2 linked regions of the Homo sapiens genome follow. The protein of the gene in region 2 interacts with the protein of the main gene of each other region in a pairwise test. Each region holds a gene or a part of one and is shown on either strand. Other genes may lie near its edges.

Evidence for each region.
Region 1: the proteins of CACNB2 (region 2) and TMEM174 interact in binary tests that used the Homo sapiens proteins (3 or more experiments, as listed by UniProt).

Annotation. Positions count from the first base shown.
Region 1 is NC_000005.10:73,167,956-73,175,643, forward strand, and holds TMEM174 (transmembrane protein 174), read left to right. Parts: upstream 1-5,237; 5' UTR 5,238-5,288; coding exon 5,289-5,914; intron 5,915-6,104; coding exon 6,105-6,210; 3' UTR 6,211-7,188; downstream 7,189-7,688. UniProt on the Homo sapiens protein: Regulator of plasma phosphate homeostasis. Decreases serum inorganic phosphate (Pi) uptake by regulating the sodium-phosphate cotransporter SLC34A1 trafficking by PTH and FGF23 in the kidney.
Region 2 is NC_000010.11:18,143,294-18,150,572, reverse strand, and holds part of CACNB2 (voltage-dependent L-type calcium channel subunit beta-2), read right to left. Parts: intron 1-7,279. UniProt on the Homo sapiens protein: Beta subunit of voltage-dependent calcium channels which contributes to the function of the calcium channel by increasing peak calcium current. Plays a role in shifting voltage dependencies of activation and inactivation of the channel.

The sequences.
Region 1 (7,688 bases), on a different chromosome or scaffold from region 2:
AAGGAGTCCACCATGATCCAGCTGCCATCAGATATTTGGCTGTGATCTTCAGGGAATAGTGCCACACTGAGGACTCAGCATTGGTCTCTGCTTTTGGTAGGTTAGGTACTCAACAGTGATGGTAGCCAGATTAGCTACTAGTTTTAAGCTCATGCATCGCCTTCATGCTTTCATCATGGTAGCCTGCATCCTGTGTACATGGGCTTATCAAGGAAACACTGATGTCTGGGGGAAAAGACTGACTGATATCCACAGAATACACCAGCTTGTTCACCTGACTGGTAGAGCCTCCTTTGCAGTGGATGCCCTTGGGTGAGTGTTCACAGGGAACACAACTATCTTTACACTCTGTGCCCACTTTGAGATATCCTTATACTTGTTCACCATACTTCCTGTTACTCACATTCCAATCTTGTTCTTTCTGAGTCCTTGAAACCTAGGACACCACTCACCTCTGCCTATGAACCAACATCGATTGTATTATTGGCCATCTCTCAGCTCAGACAACATGGACAACCAAATGTCCTGCTTGAAGTTCTGCTCGCTAGGATTTCCATTCTACCCTATTTCTAGCATCTTTCAGGGACACTCCTGATGGGTGTCATAATGCTTCAGCAGTCCACTGTTGTGCAGAATAACGTATACACAAGACCTAAGATTTTTTCTCCTCAGTCATCTAGCTGGGAAGAGCTCCCTACTAGGCCATAGGTTTGGATTGTAGGAGAAGATGCCACACAGTAAGAGTAAGTGTAAGGCTCTGAACCGCCTGTTTATGTAGTTACTTGTAATTCTAGACCTGCTCATGTCCAAGTTCTTAAATACCATTTTTACTTGATAATGAATCACTGCTGTGCATGCTCAAACTTACAGTTGTGTGGGTCAGATATGCTCAGGTCATGATTGGCAGCTCAGGGGTCATTCAGTGTCCTAGGGTGATGCAGGGCCCAGTAGCCAGGGCCCAGTAAAGAATCATGAGCTGTGTCTCAAAAGAAGAATAGCTGCCTGCAGAAGCAGCATGGATTTTCTCTAAAACCCTGGAGGCCTGCGCTGTGGTTTTATCTATGATTACTCTGTACAGCATCACTACTTACCATAGATACTTTAAGTATCATTGTCTATTAGGGTTCTCCAGAGAAACTGAACCAATCGCATGTAGATATAGATACTGTTCCATGGTAAGCAGGTTTATGCAAACCTATCCTCAAAGGCCATGGAAGCTAAGAGGCTGAGGAAAGAGGCTGACAAATCCAGTTTCTCAGAAAGGAACATATAATAGGGACTTAAGAACAGAGGCCATGCTCCTGGAAGCCATGAGACAAGATGGTGGATCCTATACCATTACTCACCAGACCCAGAGCTTACATACCTCAGGGAAAGGGTATGTATGCTTCAGAAGGGATGTGTAGAACAATTGCTTAAGGTCAGGATTTATGGTAAGTACTATAACATTAAAGTTGTTTTGATCTAAGGGCAGGGCTTACAGTAAGTACATGCTCTCATGCAAGGAACAGTAGATAAAACAGACTTTTTTTTTTACTATACTTTAAGTGTTAGGGTACATGTGCACAACGTGCAGGTTAGTTACATATGTATACATGTGCCATGTTGGTGTGCTGCACCCAGTAACTCGTCATTTAACATTAGGTATATCTCCAAATGCTATCCCTCCCCCCTCCCCCCACCCCAAAACAGGCCCTGGTGTGTGATGTTCCCCTTCCAAAACAGGCATTTTAAAGGCATTCCTGGAACGAGTTAGACAGCAGTGAACACGGTGGGTTAGCATCTAAGAGGGAGTGGCTGTAGCCTCCACAGATGTATAGCTATATAGAAAGATATCTATTTAAATTTTGTTGACTTTTGGTGATGTCAGCCCTGTAAATATAGGATACAAGTTTCTTTTAGGACCACCACAGAAACTCTCTGGTTCTCTGACTGTGACTTGAGCTGAATTTAAAGACCTGAGCTTGTTACTTTTCCTTTTATAAGTATTGCAGGGCATTCTGAAGTGGCCATCTCCATCCCACAGAACTTGCAGTTCATCATTATTGTCATAGTGATTAAGTGTAGCAGCCAGTTGGTCCCCAAGGCATTTGCTCCAATAGGCAATTTTTCACAACCTACTACAGGTGCTATTTTTATTAGTTTTGATGCCACTTCATGCCATGATCTACTAATATCCCATGTTTCATTGATGAGGACTCAGCATTGTATTTGAGGCCAAGAATATGACCAAATCAATTCCAGAATCCCATCTTCACAGGTATGTTTCCTAACCCCACTGTGAATACGACATATCAGTCAGAATCACTTAGGGAAACAGAAACTATACCAGTTATTTTAATAGAGAGAATTTGGTATAGGAAATTAGTTTAACAGATACTGGAGGATTGAAAAGGCAAAAAATAAACACTAAGAACACTTAGACTTAGTGAAAGCAGGCTGGGGGAACAAAAGGAAGAGGTTGGGCTTATATTAGAAATCAGAAGCTTGGATAAGGGCCCTTGTGGAGCTGGGATGCAGCTCTCTGAGTAGAAAACGTCCTTCAGCTAATGCTGGCATCTCAGGAGCTTGGACAAAGAACAGTGGCTGGTGTTGGTTTCCCTGAAGGGGCACAGTGAGGCTGATTGGAGGGCAGGAGGAGGGTTCTGGAAACTGGAACTGTTACTGCCAGGAAGAAGAACTGTTGTTGGAGTGACACTGACAGTAACAGCAAGCAAAATAGAAACTGCTAAGTGCCTTCTCCTTTCTCCCACCTTGAAGTCTCCCTGTAGCACCCCCTATTGGCAAAGCCTAACTGGAGCAGCCTGGGAAAGGAAAAGTGTGCTTTGAGAGTCTGAGACAAAGAGAAGTTTAGAAAGGTGGGTTTGGAGCTGAGTCACCATAGCTTAATAATCAGCATAGTTTTCTTGACTGTAACCTGGTTGTTAAAAGAATGAAATTATGTCACCTATATTAAATGTATAGAATTACACCTGGTACATAGTAAGTATTCAATAAATGTTTCCCCTTCACTCATCAATTGAGATGATCGTGTGTTGTTTTTTCCCCTTCATTCTGTGAATATACTGCATCACATAGATTGATTTTTGTACGTTGAACCAGCCTTGCCTTCCACTTGGTCATGGCATATAGTCCTTTGAATATGCTATTGAATTCAGTTGGTTAGCTTTAAAAAAAAATTGCTATTTACCATCTAGACAGAGGTGGGGCTTTTGGAAGAAGCAGCTGAGTCAAACGGACCTTGAAAATGTAATTGGAGAACTTTCTGATCTTTCTGCTCTGAAAGCAGTTCCAGTTTGCATTCATGAGCTGTCTAAAGGAGGGTGATCTGTTTCCTCTACTCTCTCAGGCTTCCCAGTTATTCTTAGTGGATATAGCTAAAGGCAAATGGAAAACATAAATTGAGTGATTTAGAAGACAGTTTTGAGATCCTAGCTTTTTTCTAAATGTCAGGGATTGTTTTGACTGTTAACTTAGGAGTTAAGAACCTGAAAATAATGGCAGGCTAACTTACCAGAAATTTATAGTTAAAGAGAAAATCTGGCTTTCCTGGATCTCTGATCTAGCTCAGTGGGAAAAAGGGCAGCCTGTTCCTATAGCAACTCCACTCCAGCCTTGCTGCTCCAAGGCACATCCAGGAAGATACCTCAGGGGTCACCTGCTTGCTTTTCCATCTGTTTGGCAGTGAAGTAGGAGATTACAAGCCTTGTCCTGTAGCAGGGAGAGGCATTTTCATGGGGAAAAATGTCCTTTGGTCTCCTAGAAGCATTTAAGGTTAACCTGGGGTTGGGTTTCCTAAGATTTCTTGATGATGAATCACCTGAGGTCCTTCCCTTGGATATTTGGTTCTGTTGGTCTGAAATGGGAGCTCACATTTTGTCCTTTAAAAAAGTGGCCCATGTGATTTCTTTGTCAAGGGAAGTTTAGGAAGCCCTGCCTTAGGGCAAGACGGCAGCCCTCTCAATTCTGCAAAAGGAGCTAATATAATATTTAATTACTGCAGAGAGCATCGGCTTGAATAAAATCTGTCTAGGAAGGAAAGAAGGCTACAGTTATTAATCAGTGGAGGAAGAAACTCATGGGGCTGTTTGGAAGTTTTGCAGTCATGAATGACAGATAATGTTATTGAAAATTAAACTGTCTTCTCTACATCAACTTGGGTTTGGTTGTAAAACATAGTAGGTTCCAAAACACAGCTGGTTGTTTCACCTTGAAGACCAGGAACTGTGTGGCCACCATGGAGGGAGGGTCCGAAGCATGTGTCCTAGTGAGCCAGGTCATATCTGATGCTTATTCAACCACTGGCAGTGATGCAGTGCATAAAAAGGTTTCCTATGACGTTGTTCCTCTCCCAAAGCTGGAATTACTCCCCAAACGCAGAAAGCAAAAGGCATGTGGGGCTGGCCAGAAAAGAACAGGATCTCAGGGCTTTGTGAGAACTGTTATTAAAGTTTAAGTATCATCACAGCTAGGGGTTCTTGAAGTAGATAGGAATACACACGCAGTCAAGAAATAGGTGTCTGTCTATTCCTAATGAACTGAACCACTAGGTAAATCAGGTTAGACTCCTGTGCATGTGTGGATATATCAAGGGCCCCATTCACTGCTGGAGACCCTTGAGGGAGCTCTGCCATTTCTACAAAGTTGGGTAGGACAAAAACAGGGTCTTATGGCAGCGTCTTAAATTGCTATAGAAGAGTACCTCCTGGGGCCAAGGCAGGAGGAGCACTTGAGTCCAGGAGTTTTGAGACCAGCCTGGTCAACATAATGAGACCCTATCTCTACAAAAAATTTTAAAAATTGGCTGAGCATTGTGATGTGTGCCTGTAGTCCTGGCTACTGGAGAGGATGAGGTGGGAGGATCGCTTGACCCAGGAGGTTGAGGCTGCAGTGAGCTATCATTGTGCCACTGCATTCCAGCTGGGTGACAGAGTGAGACCCACACCCTAAAAAAACAAAACAAAACAAAAAAAAGAAAAGAAAAGAAAAAGAAAGAGAAAGATGGGCTCAATAAGTTAATTTTTGAATGTGTGAATGAATGAATGTGAATTAGAGAGACAGCTTGTCATTGACTTGCAAAACAGAGACCTCCACTTGTTGACAATACATGAGAAAACTTCAGGCTTCATTTCTCAGACCTTTATTCTTCTAAACAAGGTCCAGCCCTCTGTGTGTTACACCCTGTTAAGCACAAGCCCTAAGTTCTTCTATAACTAATTTGGACCTGTGATTCCTTGGTTCTCACAATCCTCTCCACTCTAAGAAGCAGGGTGAGCCCACAAGGAGCAATGGAGCAGGGCAGCGGCCGCTTGGAGGACTTCCCTGTCAATGTGTTCTCCGTCACTCCTTACACACCCAGCACCGCTGACATCCAGGTGTCCGATGATGACAAGGCGGGGGCCACCTTGCTCTTCTCAGGCATCTTTCTGGGACTGGTGGGGATCACATTCACTGTCATGGGCTGGATCAAATACCAAGGTGTCTCCCACTTTGAATGGACCCAGCTCCTTGGGCCCGTCCTGCTGTCAGTTGGGGTGACATTCATCCTGATTGCTGTGTGCAAGTTCAAAATGCTCTCCTGCCAGTTGTGCAAAGAAAGTGAGGAAAGGGTCCCGGACTCGGAACAGACACCAGGAGGACCATCATTTGTTTTCACTGGCATCAACCAACCCATCACCTTCCATGGGGCCACTGTGGTGCAGTACATCCCTCCTCCTTATGGTTCTCCAGAGCCTATGGGGATAAATACCAGCTACCTGCAGTCTGTGGTGAGCCCCTGCGGCCTCATAACCTCTGGAGGGGCAGCAGCCGCCATGTCAAGTCCTCCTCAATACTACACCATCTACCCTCAAGATAACTCTGCATTTGTGGTTGATGAGGGCTGCCTTTCTTTCACGGACGGTGGAAATCACAGGTATGGCGTGTCTACTGGGGGAATGCACTCCTTCTAGCCATCTCCGTCATGATCTGTGGCTGTTTGGTCCATGAATAAGGTGTTGGGAGACTGTGAATCTCTTCTTAGCCTGTTGCCCACGATGGCAGCCTTGGTTCTGTGAATGGTGCTTTGGACCATAATGTACCTGTGTTTTCTGCTCACATTTCAGGCCCAATCCTGATGTTGACCAGCTAGAAGAGACACAGCTGGAAGAGGAGGCCTGTGCCTGCTTCTCTCCTCCCCCTTATGAAGAAATATACTCTCTCCCTCGCTAGAGGCTATTCTGATATAATAACACAATGCTCAGCTCAGGGAGCAAGTGTTTCCGTCATTGTTACCTGACAACCGTGGTGTTCTATGTTGTAACCTTCAGAAGTTACAGCAGCGCCCAGGCAGCCTGACAGAGATCATTCAAGGGGGGAAAGGGGAAGTGGGAGGTGCAATTTCTCAGATTGGTAAAAATTAGGCTGGGCTGGGGAAATTCTCCTCCGGAACAGTTTCAAATTCCCTCGGGTAAGAAATCTCCTGTATAAGGTTCAGGAGCAGGAATTTCACTTTTTCATCCACCACCCTCCCCCTTCTCTGTAGGAAGGCATTGGTGGCTCAATTTTAACCCCAGCAGCCAATGGAAAAATCACGACTTCTGAGACTTTGGGAGTTTCCACAGAGGTGAGAGTCGGGTGGGAAGGAAGCAGGGAAGAGAAAGCAGGCCCAGCTGGAGATTTCCTGGTGGCTGTCCTTGGCCCCAAAGCAGACTCACTAATCCCAAACAACTCAGCTGCCATCTGGCCTCTCTGAGGACTCTGGGTACCTTAAAGACTATAAAACAAAACAAAACAAAAACATCAAACCAATGAAATAAAATAAATCATGTCTCCTGCTAGAATAGTATTGGATACCTGACTAAATTACACAAAATAGACCATAATAGGATAGCGCTGTGAATACATCCTTCCCGATCACTGAGTCACAGTGACCCTTGGCTGCTGCTGTTCTCTTCTGCAAGGTTGAAGCTTGACGTGTGATGAACATGGGTGGGCTCTTGGTCCACCCCAGGCTGGGGCCTGCGCCAAGCATGAACTAGCTGGGACCAGTGGCTGACAGAACACAGGACTTCCCTAAGTACCCGTAGGTCTGTGGAGCAAGACAGAGCAGAGTTGCCATGTCAACACATGGGGAATGATATGATAGAAACAATCTTTATGACTAAAAGAAACTCATCTTCTTCATTAAAAAAACTTTGGTGTCCTTAATCTCTCTGAATTTGGCTGTGTAATAAACAACTGGAACTGACTCACAGACTTTAGAAGAGACAGTTTAAAACCATTAGGTTTTAAAAGAAAATATTTGCTTTGGGCTTCAAAGGCAATGCCACTCAAGGTAAGGGTGGTACATCCTAAAGGAAGACACAGGATTAAGCAATTCTTAAAAAAATTTTGACATAGCGTTTGTATATGGAGCAACTTTTACTAATTTTGATCAGAAGTATCTAGGTTTCCAAGGATATGAGTGAAGTAAGCTTGGTATATTATTGTTGTCATTTATGTTATATCTTGGGGACAAAACCTTTTCACATACACTGTCATGTTTGATGATAGGTGATAAGTGAAAATGATTTCATTTAAAGAAACTAGCTTTATGTTCAGCAGATCCCTGAGACACTGGTCCCTAGCTGAGGGCCATTGGTTTTGGAGAAGAAGTTTGGTGACAAGGACCAGGCTGAGCATCACCAGTGGCATGCTGACCAGCAGAT
Region 2 (7,279 bases):
TCCTGCCTCAGCCTCCCGCATAGCTGGGATTACAAGCATGTGCCACCACGTCTGGCTAATTTTGTATTTTCAGTAGAGACAGGGTTTCTCCATGTTGGTCAGGGTGGTCTCGAACTCCCAACCTCAGGTGATCCGCCCGCCTTGGCCTCCCAAAGTGTTAGGATTACAGGCATGAGCCGTTGCACCCGGCTGAGGAGGGTTTTCTTGGCAAAGCATTTAATAACTAGTGAATTAAAACAATGGATGTCGTCTTATAAATGTGTTAGCAGGCAAGAGGCAAAAGCCTGTAATGATAAAGCATTTAAAAATAAGCATTTAAAACAGGAAGTTAAAGGTAAGATGATTTGTTTCGATAATAGGATTGGGCCAAGCAGAAACATCTAAAAATGAACTTGCTTTTCCTATTATGTTTACATTCAGAACCCTAAGAATAAACTACACATCAATCTATGTTTAATTCTAAGCATAGATGCAGTAAGGGCAAATATTAAACATTAAAATATAAATGAACAATAGCTTAACAGTTGAGTTTAGAGTTAAATGTAGCACACAGGTTAGAATCCTGGACATAGCAAATCTTCACCAAATTTCTTAACTTTTTCAAGCATCAATCTTTTCATCTTTAAAATGGGGTTAAGTATTAGATGAAATAATACCTCATAGGATTAAGTATGAAACGAAATAATGTATTTATAGCATTTAGCATAAGATCTAACACATGGTAAGGACTCAAAGTAATACATAAAAAGTGATACCTATACAGGGGTTGGAAGATGTGGAAACAAACTGGACTAAAGCGTATAACATGTTGACAATTATTAGGCTCATAGAGACTTCCTTAGATTATCAAAATTTACAACATTTATTTTTAAAATCATCACATTCAGGTTCTCAAAATGCTATTTGGTTATGCTTTCTCTATTCATATGCTTTTCATTAAAATATCTGCCATAATATATGTAGCACTTAGGCAAGCTGAAATCTATTACAAACATTTGCGTTATGAGTAATTTAGACGAATTTGCTATCAGTGAGAGGGTGGTATCATCTTAAAGCAAAAAATTTTCTTATATATGTTTGTTCTATTCAGAGTATCTAAGGGATTTATATAATACAAATGTGTTTCCATGACATTTAATTAACTCTCAACTTCATAAACGGCAAGAAAGCTACGCTGGTCTTTCATAATGTAATATACAAGGTTGTCCTCGGTTAACAGCTCATTCTTTTTACTTGTGTAAACATTATTCAGTAAACTGTTGAAAAATAACATTCTTTTAACCACTTTTTTTCTTTTCCAATTATTATGTAAAGGTTTGGACAGATGCATTTTCTAAGGCCTAAGAAGGCTAAAATAAAGTATGAAAATCTCTTTAAAATTTTCTTTTAAATTTATATTAACCTATGTGCAAAAATACTTATTACCTAGAAAGTATTTTTAAGGCCTGTTTCTTTGGGGGTGTAGCGACAATCTTTGTTAAATTCACCGTTTATCCTCATGAGGAACATGAATTATCTTTGAGAACAAAGACAAAATATAATCTCATCCCATTTTTTTTTTTTTTTTTGAGACAGTGTCTTGTGCTGTCACCCAGGCTGGAGTGCAGTGATATGATCATGGCTCACTGCAGCCTTGACTACACCCCACACCCTCTGGGCTCAAGCAATCCTCCCACCTCAGCCTCCCAAGTAACTGGAACTACAGGCACACATTGCCGTGCTTGGCTAATTTTTGTTTTTTGTAGAGACAGGGTCTCACTATGTTGCCTAGGCTGGTCTTGAACTCATGACTTTAAGCAATTCTCCCGCCCCAGCCTCCCAAAGTGGTGGGACTACAGGAGTGAGCTACCATGTCCAGCCTCCAGTACCGTTTTTAAATGAACAGAAAAGAGTATCTTCGCAATTCTATTGTCCTTTAATTTTAGCATTTTAGTGATAAATATGTCTCATTATCCAACTTCTTGAATGTGTAAGCTTTTTTGTGGTTGCTTACAATTGTACAACAGGCACTGTGAGAGCCACACAATGTTGAAGACATTCAGTCACAGAGGAGGTGGCTGTTCTCTGCAAGAAGTTGAACACATTTAAAAACTCACATTAATTTTTCCAGACCCCTGGGAATCCTGTTCATAAATGTTATTTCAGGCGTACTTAGCTACCTATGCAAAGTATATGTAATGAAATTATTACAGTTTTCAACTGTACTAAGATAGTTTATACACCAAACAACTATAGCACACTGAACTGCATGCATGCTGGTGATAGTTTTGAGAAAAAAAATTGTTCTTCAATTACTTAAGTGTATAAGGGATGATTTATTTAAAGTATTCATTTGCTCATGCCTTAAGAGTGTTAGAGCAAATCCCTATCATATATCATATTAAAAGACAAAATAAATATATATGCTTCATTATATCTCTATTCTGTTATTTTACTAATTTCCACAGGAATTTCTCTTCTAAAGTTTCTTTTTTTTTAAAAAACTGTAGAGTGATTACTTACTGACCAGTTATTTTGTTATTATAATAACAGTCAGGATCAGAAAACAAAAAAACATTTAAAGCATCTTTGGAAAGCTAATAGTCCATTTTCATATACCTTTAAAAATGTTAGTGAAAATTCATCCTGCTATTACAAAATTAAATTTATTTTAATCTAATGTGTATTTAAAATTAAGTCCATCTTGCTCGAAAGATTTGGTTTTCAGTTACTTGAAATCCTTGAAAATAAGGACTAGACTACTTCTTCTGAAGGAATTAAGGGGGGAAAAAAGTGAAGGCCAAACCTCTCCCAAACGGAAAAGACAGGGAAGATTAAGTGTTCAAATATTTAGCTGACTAAATTTGAAAAAAAAAATATATGTAATTGTTTTAGTTAATTTGCTACTTCAAGTGCAGCTACTTTTGTGAACAGTTTTTCTAAATATTTTTTACCAGCATTAAAATATATGAACGCCCAATATCTGAAACAGTTAATCATTAGTGCAGCCCAGGTTGTATAAGGAAAAGGGGAGACAGGAAAGGGGATTTGGCTGTAGTACAAGGTGTTACCTATAGATTCTCCCTGACACATGCAGGTCTCTGTGTCCTTCTTGAAAGAGTCCCAAAAGTCACTAATTTCCACTAATTGCTATTAGCTATATGAAGCTTAAAACAAATTATGTCACCACAGTAAAAAGAAAAAAAAAACTCTTATATTTATATTCCTTTAGTTGTTCCAAAACATCAAGCTAAGATTTCAGAAACTAGGGAAAAAAATTCTTAAGAAATTTCCAAAAATATATTAATGACTTATTAAAAAGACATTCAAAATCCATCATGATGTTAATATCAGCTTAGTGTGAATGAATATCCATCTTCCTTGACACGAAGTAACTTAAGAATGGACTCCAGTCTTAAAAATCAGCAAATAAATGTTGACCTTTTCACAGGTAATGAAAATCTAATTGCTGCATGATTGAAGGAGACAGGAATAATTAATTACAGAAGTTGTCAGTTAACTGGAGATTTTAGCCGTGCACTCAAAGTTGTCTTGGCAGCCCCTGGGGACAACCTGAAGAATGATGTGGCTTCTGTGCTTTTATGGTTATTGTGACACTTCTCCTACCTACAGATTACTTCCCATGAGCAAAATACTGACACTTAAAATTAGGCCGGGCACGGTGGCTCATGCTTGTAATCCCAGCACTTTGAGAAAGCAATGTGGGTGGACCACCTGAGGTCAGGAGTTTGACACTAGCCTGGCCAACATGGCGAAACCCTGTTTCTACTAAAAAATACAAAAGTTAGGCTGGGCACAGTGGCTCACACCTGTCATCCCAGCACTTTGGGAGGTAGAGGCAGAGGGAAACAGATCATTTGAGGTCAGGAGTTCAAGACTAATGTGACCAACATGGTGAAACCCCATCTCTACTAAAAATACAAAAAAATTCGCCAGGCGTGGTGGCGGACACCTGTGATACCAGCTACTCAGGAGGATGAGGCAGGAGAATCGCCTGAACCCAGGAGGTGGAGGTTGCAGTGAGCCGAGATCACGCCACTGCACTCCAGCCTGAGTGACAGAGCGAGATTCTGTCTCGAAAAACAAAAAAAAAAAATTAGCTGGCCGTGGTGGCATGTGCCTGTAGTCCCAGCTACTCAGGAGGCTGAGGCAGGACAATTGCTTCAACATGGAAGGTGGAGGTTACAGTGAGCCAAGATTGCACCACTGCACTCCAACCTGGGCTACCGAGTGAGACACCATCTCAAAAAAAAAAAAAAAAAAAAATTAGTCTCCATCTCTCTCAGTTCGTATTCATTGATGTTTATCCCTTTGAATTTCCAGACTTTCCTCATCTTATGACCTAAAACAAACAAAGCCAAAACTATCCAGAGAGAAATCATGTATCAAATCTCCTCATTTACCAATAGCTTAGTGTGAATAAGCTAAGGGTAAGATCCTTTACTAGGCAAGAAGTAGCTAAATGACATTCCTAGAAAAAAGAGAGAAGTAAGTTGCCTTTTATAATATGGCTCAGTTCACACAAAAGCAGAAAGGAACAAGGAGCCTGCATAAATAGAGTTCTTGGGGATGGGGGTGGGTGTCTAGCAGGTACAGGAGGGAGGAGGGAGGAAGGAGGAGGCCAGGAAGCAGAGATCTATCTGCCCAGTAAGGAGGAGCACAGGCAGGGAGAGCAGAAAGCCAGGAACAACACATGCCTTCTTCACAGTCTACCTCCTGCCAGGCTTGGAAAGATCAGTAAGACAGGCCCGGTTCCTTTAAGTGATGTCATAAGTAGTTTTCTCTGTCTGCAGTTGTGAAATAATGCATTGTTACAATTAGTTTGTAACATAACCATGTTATGTTATGTTTGACCTAGACTACGTGTAGGATAGAGACATGCCACAAAATTGTAGAGTATCACCATCCCCTATGAGGTTAACATATTTTGCTTAGCTTCTCTTGAAAGGGCCAAGGCTATATAATTCAAAGGAATTAAATACAGCAACAGGTAAATTGAGTCTTCACATAAAAAGAGAGAGAAAAATAAAATGAGCATGATATTGTAAGAACAACAAAACCTCAAATCACTCAGATATATTTCAAATTCTAAAACATACTCAGAAATTCTGATTGGCATGTCTGTAAATTTCTCCCATGTCACATTAGAAAAAAAAAAATACCATTCAAGAGGAAAGTGATGGTGGTTAAGAGTGAAGATTTCAGCAAAACATAAAGCACAGGACCTGTAACCACCAACTTTGGAGACTGCAGAAAACTCATTTGCACACGGGACCTAAGAATATTTCAGGAAAACAGTGTTGATGTAGTTGAAGAGCCACTAGAAAACAGCTGCTACTCTTTTTGGATAAAGCTCCTTGCTACAGCCATTCAGGATGTTGCCATCACCAGGCTGTATTACCACAACATGCTTGAAAAGCATCTGGCAGACTCGGCTGGGCTGGGACCAGCTGGGACCTGTTGCTAGGAGCAAAACAAACAGGCCCACTGGTTACTGTCTGTTCAGTTTCAGGTGCGACTGGAGGTGCCACTGACAATCTCTCTGAGGCCTAGAGTGCTGAGATACTGTTCTTGTTACTCCTCCGTTTCCTCTTCTGTTACCTATCAATCCCTGTCACCTGCTTCCCGTTCACCCAACCTTCACGCAGGAGCTATTCAATTCCCTGGAGAATTACCAGTTTCATACTTTAATGTTGCCCAATAGAAATGTCATATGGCCAAATATATCACTGAAATTTTCCAGCAGCCACATTAAAAAGGTAAACAGCAACAGGTGAAATTAATTGTAACAATGCATTTGTTTAACCCAGCATATCCAAAACATGGTCATTGCAACATGTCATCAATTTAAAATTTACTAATGAAGATGTGTTATATTCTTTATTTCATCTTAAGCCTTTGATATCTGGTGTGTATTTCACATTTACAGCACATATCAGTTCAGACCAGCCACATTTCAAGGGCTCAAAAGCCACAGGTGGCTAGCAGCTACCACAATGAACAGACAGATCTGGAGCTTGGAGAAAGGGTCCTCCATGAGCACCTGGACTTTGGAAGTAGACTGTGTCCAGGTTCACGCTGAAACTGTTCAACAGGTTACCTAAAAAGCAATGCAATTTTCTTAAATGGGGACTTTCAAGAATTTGCAGTTAGATTGCCATTCATTTCCCATGTAAGAAACGTATCCATTTTGGGCTGGGCATGGTGGCGCACGCCTGTAATCCCAGCACTTTGGGAGGCCAAGGCGGGCAGATCACCTGAGGTCAGGAGTTTGATACAAGCCTAGCCAACATGGTGAAACCTCGTCTCTACTAAAAATACAAAAAAATTAGCTGAGCATGGTGGCGGGCGCCTGTAGTCCTAGCTACTGAGGAGGCTGAGGCAGGAAAATTGCTTGAAACCAGGAGGTGGAGGTTGCAGTGAGCTGAGATAATGCCACTGCACTCCAGCCTGGGTGACAGGGTGAGACTCCGTTTCAAAACACAAAACAGAACAAAAACAAAAACAAAACAAAACAAAAACCAGGGCTTTGAGAAATGTATCATTTTGTTTATGGCAATGTACTGGGGCAAAGGGACCGGAATGTATCAGGATGCTCCCTCTCTCTAGACAGAATGATTGATACAGAAAAGGAAAATGGCAGAGTTTGCAAATCTACATCTTCTGCTTTCTTCATACAAATATAATACTATAATCCAGAGGTGAGGTAGAATGATTCCTAAAACCAATCATTGCTTTAGAGGTTCCATTTGTAAATAGAAACTCCATTTCTAGGTAGAACTGCCCAATAATTCTGAGTAGAATTACTCGGTGCCACATACAAGGAGGATGCTCTAGAGCCAGCCTCCTTTCTCAGGCAGTTTTTACTGCTGGTCTGTTCTGCCCAAACAGAGAGATGGAAGAGATGGCTTTCCCAAGCCTCACACAATCCTATGATGCCATGATTTATCAGATATAAAATAAACAAGGTAATGTTTCCCTCAAATAATGGGTGTGAGATGAACGCAATTCAAGTCAAATTGCTTTCATTTTTGGAAGGCAGAGAAAGCAAGGAGATGAATGTTGATGCAGTTGAATATTTATATCTCTTAAACTTGCTTTTAAAATCCATTCTGCCCTTTCTCTTCTCTCTCCTTTATCTATGCAATCACTTGCTAATTCCTGTGAATTGAACTTTGAAATGTTTGATACATAGAACTGTCATATCCATTATCTTTTCATCTCTTTTTCGCTTAGGCCTTATTACCTCGGCCCAAACTGTTACATCTGTCTGCTGCCT